2 separate regions of the Homo sapiens genome follow, and region 2 is reported to be linked to region 1. The links are microRNA targets in miRTarBase. Many come from high-throughput screens and were not tested one by one. Region 1 holds a microRNA gene; the other region holds the end of a gene's coding sequence.

Region 1 (4,382 bases):
TAAAAATAAGTAAATAAATAAATAAACAAAAATAAAATAAAATGAGCACCATAGACTATCACCTACATGGGAAGTGAGATAGTGTCCTTTTTCTCATCATTGCCTGAAATTCTGGCACGTAATAGGCACTCCGTAAAGACATATTGCATAAAGGAATGAATCAACAAGCCAGAGAAGAGGAAACCCAGTACCAGGGTGACTCAGAAGCTAAATGATAAGAAAAAAGAGAGAAATAACCCAGTGTCAGATGTCAGTGATGTGGCAATATTGAGAGCATGGATGACCTTATCTTTGTAATTCCTATGAATTGGCAGCATCCGGAGCCAGACTGTAGGGGTGAATGGGAAGGGAGGAAGTGGAGAAAAGACAAATGATAGTGGAGACTGAGAGGCTGTTTGTTTTGTATTGAAGATGTGAAAGTTCAGTATGTATTCTGGAGAAATTATATAGAAAAGGCAGGTTCTAAAAACGTGCTGTCCAGGAAAGGAGAAACTAGCTACACAGAGCTATTTAAATTAAAATAAAAAATACAACTTCTTAATCACAGTAGCTCCATTTCAAGTTCTAAATGGCCACATGTGTCTACAGACTACCATACTGTGCAGAGCTGATTAACATTTCCTTCTTTGCAGAAAGGTCTTTCAGACAGTGCTGCTGTAGACAAAAGTTTTAATTCATCATGTTTGTGCTGGCTTCAATAAACAAGTTCAGGTTAAATCAATGCACAGCATCGCCCAATCTCTTCCTACCCAAAACATTATCCAAACCCAGCAGAAAAACTATTGTGGGATTATATCACAATCTATACATGATAGATTCACATGTGGTCTCAGTGGGTGAGAGTTAACCTTGGAAGAGGCCAGTGGAGACTTTAAAGGAGCTGCTAAATCTCAGGATGTGATCTAGGGGTCTGGCCATTATATGTATTCATAATGTTTTCCCACCAAAGATCTGTGACACGTAGCAGCAGTTTGTGATTGCTAAGCATTACACAGAGAAAAGGAGCTATGGGATGGGGTATAAGAATGACAGGTATTGGAGCAGTGCTGAATAAGAAAGGTTAGATAATTCAGGCTAGGGTAGACAGAACATCCTGGGTAAAATGAGGTTATTACAGTGAAATTCTAGTTCTACAAAAGTAAAGTGACTGGTAGACAACAAATAAATCATGTTTATCACCTTATATTTAATTTTTATGGTTTTTGTATGGCACCTTAATAATAAAAAGGACTGTGGTAGAAGACTGAGGCATTATTATCCATCAAAGCTGTCCACTTAGACAATGTTACTCAAGGTCCTGCTGACTTATTGAAATTAGAAAAATCACTTTTGTAATTTTAAAAACAAAACCTCCAATTTAATGGAAAAATCTGTTTTCAATCACCTCTTTTAAAGGAATATATTTTGCTCTGCTCAATTTAAAAAAATCGTTATTCATGGGATGAAGGGATAGAAGAAATGGACTGAGAACTGTAGAACTCTTGGCACATGACTCCATCCAAACCTCTGAGTTACTAAGAGACAAACTTTAGCATGCCTTCTAGCAGTGTCAGATCATGTCCCTAGGAGAACCCCAGCTCCCCCATGAAAATGCCTGCCTGAGAAAGCTCAATGCTACCAGGAGAATTTACTATTTGTTCTAGCCAACACCTGATGATAGGCTCCTGACCTCCCTTTCTCAGGGCGTTTATTAAGGGCTTACCATTATGAATCCTTCCTTCTTCTCTTTAAGGTGTTTATGCGTCTGCTACAACTCAAGAGGTCCTTCTAAAGGACCTGAGAGCCATTCCTTTGAAATTGATCGTCAAGAAGGGCAGAGCCTCTACCTCCCAATCTCAGTGCAAGAATAGCAAGCTAGGCTGGGCGTGGTGGCTCACGCCTCTAATCCTAGCACTTTGGGATGCCCAGGCGGGTGGATCACCTGAGGTCAGGAGTTCGAGACCAGCCTGGCCAACGTGGCGAAACCCCGTCTCTACTAAAAATAGAAAAATTAGCCAGATGTGTTGGCATGCACCTGTAATCCCAGCTACTCGGGAGGCTGAGGCAGGAGAATCTCTTGTACTCGGGGGTGGGGGTGGGGCGGAGGTTGCAGTGAGCCAAGATCGCGCCATTGCACTCCAGCCTGGGCAACAAGAGTTAAACTCCGTCTCAAAATAAATAAATACATAAAAAAGCACTCTAACTTCTATAGCTGCTAGCTAGCAGACACATCTGGCCGAATCGCATCTATGCCAATCAAATCTGTAATTTTTCACTTCTCCAACACTATTGAGCCCTGATCACCTTCCTTCCTTCATTCTCCCTTTGAAATGCCCAGTCACTTCTGTACAAATCGGAACAGAGGTCAGTTCTTTTCCTTTCTGTAAGTAGTTACTGAAAAAAGTCTTTTTCACTGCTTCAATGTCTAGCTGGGTTGTCTTTGACAGGATCCAAAAAGGAGGGGAATTCAGCCCATTTGCCTTTTCCATCTGCAGGGCAAAGTTTTGAGTTGACTCTGAGGAAGTTACGCCTTTTGTAAAAACAAAACATCCAACCCTGAATGAAGCCCTTCCCCTTAGGCCTAGGCCCTCCCCTCACCAAGCGACACCTAGAGGTGACAAGCAGGCGCTCGCTCAGGGACCTAGGTAACGATACACAATGCCATGTAACAAACTCCTGCTCATCGAGGGCATCTGACCCTGGGTGCACGAGTGAATTAACTGAGTTAATGTTGACTAAGTTCCTGGTTAGTATTCACGGAGCAATTGGTGACCCCACCAAAACGTCGTTCAAGGTGCAAGGTCCAGAGGCCTCGAGGAGTGGGATTTACACATCGGAGCCGTCCGCTCAGACGCCGTTAGTGGAGGGTTCCGCCGACTTCACGGGAGTGAGGAAAGTCACTTTTGGAAATCGACTTTGCCTTCGCCCGCGAAGCCCGCCAGCGTCCGGACTCGAGTTGCCCCCGGAGCCACTGCCGGAAGTTTACCAGCTCACTTTCGGCGTCGCGCCCGCCTCCGTGGAGCAGGCCGGAAGTGGCTTTCCGGCAGCCGCCGCCGCAGCTCCGTAAAGCAAGATGGCACTACTCACTCTGAGGCTATTATCTCCGTTTTATATCTAGTATTCCTCTTCTCACCAGTTACTCTCGATTTCCGTCCCGCGCCCTAATTTTCTTCAGCACCACATTCTCATGTTTTTCTTTCATTCAGCCTTGGTGGAGTATGGTCTGGAGGCAACCTACGGCTAGCCTGAGCAACGTGGGGCACCATTTTGTACGGAAACTGAAGGCAGGGCGGGGGAGTGTGAGGCCTCCCGAGGAGGCCCGGCTTGAGAGAGAGCGTGGGAGGGAGAGCGTTGTTCACCGATGATGTATTTCCGCTTCTGGTCTGCCTGGTCGTTTTTGGTTGGATCGGCTTGTTGCGGGGAGGGAGGGGGGGAGATTGTTTGCAGCATAGAAGCTCCGCGGACGGGAAGGTAAACTGAGGTAAGGCTGTGCGGGGGGCTTTTGCGCATGGCTGGGTAGAATGGACGGGAGTAGGGTCCTTGGGATTGCGGAAGAGTGTGGAATTGGAGACGGGAGGCTTAGATGTCTCGGGTTGGACAGAGAAGGTGGGGTGGGGCTCGGGGTTACAAGGTGAATCGCAAAGCCGGGCTGGGGTGGAGTGGGACGAGCGGGAGACCACAGGAGATGGAGGAGAGCCTAGGGGTGCAGAGGAAAGTCTCGAAGGCGCTGGTTGAGGAGGGCCTGGGTCGAGAGGAGCTGGGACGGGGGAAGAGTAGAATCTAAAGTCCTTGAGGGCTAAGGAGAGAAGTTGAGGTAGGGACTGGTCGGAATACATGGGTGGGGGCGTGGTGAGAGTGTAGTTTTTGGGAGGCTGTAGAGTTGGAAGGGGCTGGTGGCTGCGGTTTTGATGCTGACATGACCATATACTTGGCCTTTGTTTCTCTGCAGCTCCCCAGAGACGCTCATCCTACAGCCTCAGCTCGGGCCCAGCCTTCTCTCTCCAGCTGCCACCACAGCCTGGAGGCGCCTGCCTCCACCCTCCCGAATGGTGCTCCTCCTAGCAGGCCTCGGTCCAGGATCCAAGCCCCCTTTGCCCCCTGCCTTGGAGCTGTTGCTCCGGGTTTGTCACAGTGGACTCCCTGTGGCGGGAAGGGAAGAACTTTTGCACAGACAAGGCTTCAGCTCTAGGAACCCCACTGACAACTTGAATCTCAACCTCTAACCTAGTGTGAGGTTCTTCCTGTGCCCACCTTTTCTGCCTTTTGAGAAGAGAAACTCTTCTCCTGGCCATCTAGAGCCCAGGAAGCCCCAAGCTGGGGCCCTGGTCCCAGCATGTCAGTCCTCTCTTGTGCATAGGGCTCTGCCCTCCCCCTGTCAGCATGGCTGAGCTCAGACAGGTTCC
Region 2 (4,382 bases), not on the chromosome of region 1:
AGATATATTTGTGGAGCCTTATATTATACATCTTATATATAGAAAATATATATATTTATACTATACACAGGCAGTAACGCTGCGGGAGGGGCCGGGGCACCGACAAGGGCTGTGCGCACCAGGACATGGGGAGTGTCAGGTCAAGTGCATCGCTGGGAGGCAGCCGGCCCAGTCCCTTCTCCCATAAACTCCTGGGAGGGGCATTCCCCCTTTCGTGCTCCTTAGAGAATCAAAGGGGTCTTGGGCCAAGGTTAGGGGTCTCCCAGGGCTAACAGGCAGGGTGTCTCAGTTACATGGGGAAACCTGGGATCCCCGAGGCTTTGAAGATCAAGAATCACCAGGGAAGGATGGAGTAGGGAACTAACGTCAGTCCCCTGGGAATTAGCCCCTCAACTGCGACACCCCCAGGTGGATAGGAGCCGTGCAGGCAGGACAGTCTGTGACTGCCCAGGATGAGCCAACTCAGAAGGCAGAAGACCTGACTCCTGAACCTCTCCCTCTGTGCTTGACCTTGGACAAGTCGCTGTCTCCCTACCCCAGACTCTGCCGACTCTAAGCGTCCTTGCGACTCTACACTTATGTGAAACCTTTTTTCCTGGGCCCTCTCTTGTGCTTGATGGGGAGGAGGGAGCCACCCTGCAGGGTCCAGCTGCAGGAGGGCCCTTCTCCAAGGAAAGCTTTGGGAGCAAGGGAGAAGTAGGGGAGGGCAGCTGGGAGGAAAAGGGATACCGGACAGAGTTGGGCCTGGGGTTCCCCAGGGGCTGTCCTCTGCCAACAGAAGGAGCGAGTTTCCCCATGAACCTTCCAGGGCAGAGTCAGGAGCCCTGGGTCCCATCCAAATCTCGCCCTCCATCTCTCACCCTCTCTCATCTCCATCCTGGGCAGGTCCCTGCCAGAGCCCAGCCTGATGGGGAAGATCATGCCTGGAAGGGCTTCTGGGCTGAACCCGGGAAGAGTGAGGGATTCTTCGTGAGATGACTCAGCACCCCCCATTCCTGGCAGGAGTCTTGACAGCTTTCCCTGCCTAGGGTGGCAGGCAGGGCCTGTCACAAACACCCAAGATGGAGTTAAGCTTACCTGGTACCCTGCCCTCCGGCTGAGGATCACCAGCAGCTGGCTGGCACCCGAGGAGAAACAGATGGGCAGTACCCTGAGGTCTCCTAGTGCCCATCAGCAGGAGAGGCTTTTGGTGGACAGTGGGTGAGGGTCAGAACATCTCACAGCCTCTTGTGGTGGGCACAGAACTTCACTCTGCCATAAACACTCCTGCCCTCACTCACGCCCTCACCTTTGGCCTGGTACAGGTTTCACTCTTCAGGCCAACAGATAACCTGCCCCCATGCTGGTCCCATGTGGGCCACCTGGCGGCGGGGGACTGTGGACAGAGCCCCTTCTCCGGATTGGAAAATGAAGTCAGCAACAACCAGCTGTCACACAGCTGGCTGGGGTCCTCTCCATCACTGCTGTCCTTTGGGAGGACTTGGACACACCTGAGTTTAGATCCGTGTTCCACTGCCAACTCGCCTATGCTTGCCGAGCCTCAGTTTCCCTTCTGTTAAATGGGGATAATGGTGCTACTTCTCTGCTTAGGACTTCCTCCTCTTTCCCTTAACTCTGGCCCAGCTTTGGGGCCATCGAAGCAGGGACCACCCATGCCCTTGGTATCTCCAGCACAGGGGCCGGGTAACTGCTGAGTGAGTAAGCAGGTGAGGGATCGCCTGCCTCTTAGGATTCTTAGATGGGGGATGGGGGGATGGTGGTGAAAACACCCAGCACTGGGCCCGTCCACCACCTGCTCTGCTCTGCTCCCTGAAGGACAGGCCAGTGGACACTGGGTGGACAGGGGGATGGGCCCCCAGCGCTCTCCCATACCTCCCTGTCCCTTATGGCTCAGTGAAGAGCCCACCTTGTGCAAGAATCGACCTGCCCCCACTCAGAAGAGATTATGACCTCCTCAGGCCCCACGGCCCTCTTTGGGCCTTTGGGTCACCTGCCACACTCTCCCCTACAGCCCATGGTCTTCCCTGGGCCTCCCATGCCTCAGGGGCTCTTGCCTGTGTCATCCTGGGGGCAGTGTCTCTCCACGGCCACAGCCCAGGAGCCGACCTGGCTGATTCCAAAGCCCTGTCCTTGCCGCTCTGCCTCCCATAGGGAGGCTGGCTCCACAGTGGGCCTTCTGGAAGGCCAAGGAAACACCTCTCATGCGCTTGGCTGCTGCAGCCCCCGAACCCTGACTGACCCCAGATGAGAGGAGAGGTGACATAGTGTCCCAGATCAGTTCTGTTTCCTGGGAGGTCACAAGGGCAGGGAATCGAGGCACCTGCTGGGCAGCTGGGGCCAAGAAACCCAGGCGTCAGGGCCAGCTTTGCCACTCACTCACCGTGACCTCGGGCCAGTCACACCCTCATCTGTGCCTTGTTGTCCACCCAGCCCTAGGTAAGGGCTTAGTGACCCCTCCTAGAGGCAAGGACAGTGATCAGTCCTTTGAGAGACCACGAAGGGGTTTGCTGGAGCCCCCTGGAACAAGCGTCTGTGGGACACGCAGAGCACAGAGCAGCACCCGGGGTGAGCCCTCTTGGAGGAGGCCAAGGGCCAGGGGTAGGACCAGGGGGATGTGGGTGGAGGGACCCGGAGGTGGGGCTGTCCCCAGGGGAGGAGGAACAGCTGGGGCAGAACAGGCCCTTGGCATGCAGCAGAATCAGGGTGTCTCAAGGGGCTGAGGGCCCCAAGGCCTCCCAGAATGACAGTAACACTGAGCAGGGAAGCCCCAAGCGTGGGGATGGTAGGAGGTGGGTGGCCAGGGAAGAGCACGTGGTCTGCAGTCGGGCAGCCTGGGCTTGGCCCCACCTCTATCACTAGCTGCCTGAGTGATTCTGGGCAAGTAATCTTGACCTCTCTAGACCTCAGTTTCCTCAACCATAAAATGGAGACGGCCCTGACACTCTTAGCAGGACTGCCAGAGCAGGGTGACAGCCCCCAGTGTCCTGTGGGTGTTTACACTCACCCTATGACCAAGCCACGGTGTAGCCACACTTCCCAGCATTATCTGGATCTGTCTTTCCCACCATTCTGGCCTCTGGTACCACCAGGGCTTCCTCCACAGCTCATCGCTCCCCTTTCCAGTGGCCATTTCTGCCAATGTCACCACCCATGCCCAGCACAGGCCGGATGCCCAGTAGGCGCTCAAGGAATGCTTGATGACACAATGTATGAATGCAAATACCCCTGGCCCCCACCCTCTAGGCCCCTGCGGGGCACATGCCCTGGGATATACTTGCACATACGTAGACAGTCCCCAACACTGGACTGCCCCACCCCTGCCCCGAGCTACCCTGGACCTCAGTGGGACAAGGCAGAGGCTGATGAGGCGCTGGGCAGGGCAGCCTGGGCAGGAGCAGGGGCTGGGTGTGGAGAGAGGGGACAGATGGGGAGGGGCGGGGGCAGGCGGTCACTGTGGCTCAGTAGCCCTGCGACTGGTAGCCCTGGGGCTCGGTGTCGAAGGTGTTGGCCGGCTGCTGGTAGGTGCCGCCCATACCGGCGGGATCCGGCCCAGTGGGCTCCACGTAGGGCGCGTAAGGCATGCTGGAGTCCTGGCTGGGGTCCATGTAGTCCTGGGAGAAGAGGGCCGAGTCGGCGCCAATCTGGTACCGCTGGAAGGCCAGCACAGCCTGGCCCGCCTGGGGACAAAGGCCGGCGAGGACAAGGACAGGCGGGAGGGGGTGGTTAGGGGAGAGACAGACAAGAGCACTGGGTTAGTGGTGGTTAGTTCACAGGACACAGGCAGGAGAGGGTTAAAGATCCTCAAAGCACCAAACATGAGACCAAGCTTGGCTGTGGAGAAGGAAGGCTGTTCTCGCAGCCACCCCCGGAAATGCCCAGAACCATATCATCCAGCCAGAAAGTACCCCAGAAATCACCTGCCCCTGTCTCCCAATCCCAGAGGTCAGTCTGGGCTACCAAAAGTTCTAGATCTCCATTATGGAGTGTTAAGATGGCTCAAAGGCTCACAACAGCCTTCTTAAAAAAAGCTTCTCAGCGGGACAAAGGACTGTTAGCATCTCCTAAGAGTCATTCTTTTGTCTCTCTTGCAGCTAGGCATGGCCATGTGACTACGTTTTGGCCAATGGGGTACCCTCATGTTCTCTGTCCCACCCTCTGACCTGATGCCTGGAACACAGATGTGATGGCTGGAGCTCTAATTGCCAAAAGGGACCACAAAGACCATGAGCCAAGTCTGTAGGAATGAAAGATGCCTGGGGGCCATGCACCGCGGCTCATGCCTGTAATCCCACAACTTTGATAGGCCAAGGTGGAAGGATTGCTTGAGGCCAGGAGATCAAGACCAGCCTGGGCTAAAATATGCACCTCTGGCATATTGACTA

What was found. Region 1 holds the annotated microRNA hsa-miR-3124-3p (ACUUUCCUCACUCCCGUGAAGU, at 2,856-2,877, opposite strand). A microRNA usually pairs through its seed, bases 2 to 8, with sites in the 3' UTR of a target mRNA and lowers its output. Matches are read on the target gene's strand: a 7mer-m8 pairs with bases 2 to 8, a 7mer-A1 pairs with bases 2 to 7 and ends in A, and an 8mer does both.
Region 2: the mRNA of SYNGR1 is a reported target of hsa-miR-3124-3p. Seed matches in the 3' UTR shown: 7mer-A1 at 3,056-3,062 and 7mer-A1 at 1,601-1,607.

What each region holds. Positions count from the first base shown.
Region 1 is chr1:248,824,913-248,829,294 of GRCh38, reverse strand. MIR3124 (microRNA 3124) reads right to left here and starts at 2,918; the gene lies at 2,852-2,918. SH3BP5L (SH3 binding domain protein 5 like) reads left to right here and starts at 3,380. Exons shown (of 7, transcript NM_030645.3): 1 at 3,380-3,460; 2 at 3,929-4,382. The coding sequence starts at 4,360. RefSeq lists enhancers at 2,689-2,788, 2,859-2,908, 2,484-3,034, 3,019-3,278, 3,035-3,586 and 1 more.
Region 2 is chr22:39,380,991-39,385,372 of GRCh38, reverse strand. SYNGR1 (synaptogyrin 1) reads right to left here. Exons shown (of 4, transcript NM_004711.5): 4 at 1-3,677. The coding sequence ends at 3,459. Among named protein-coding and RNA genes, the nearest start is that of TAB1, 17 kb to the left of the region's middle. RefSeq lists a silencer at 295-589.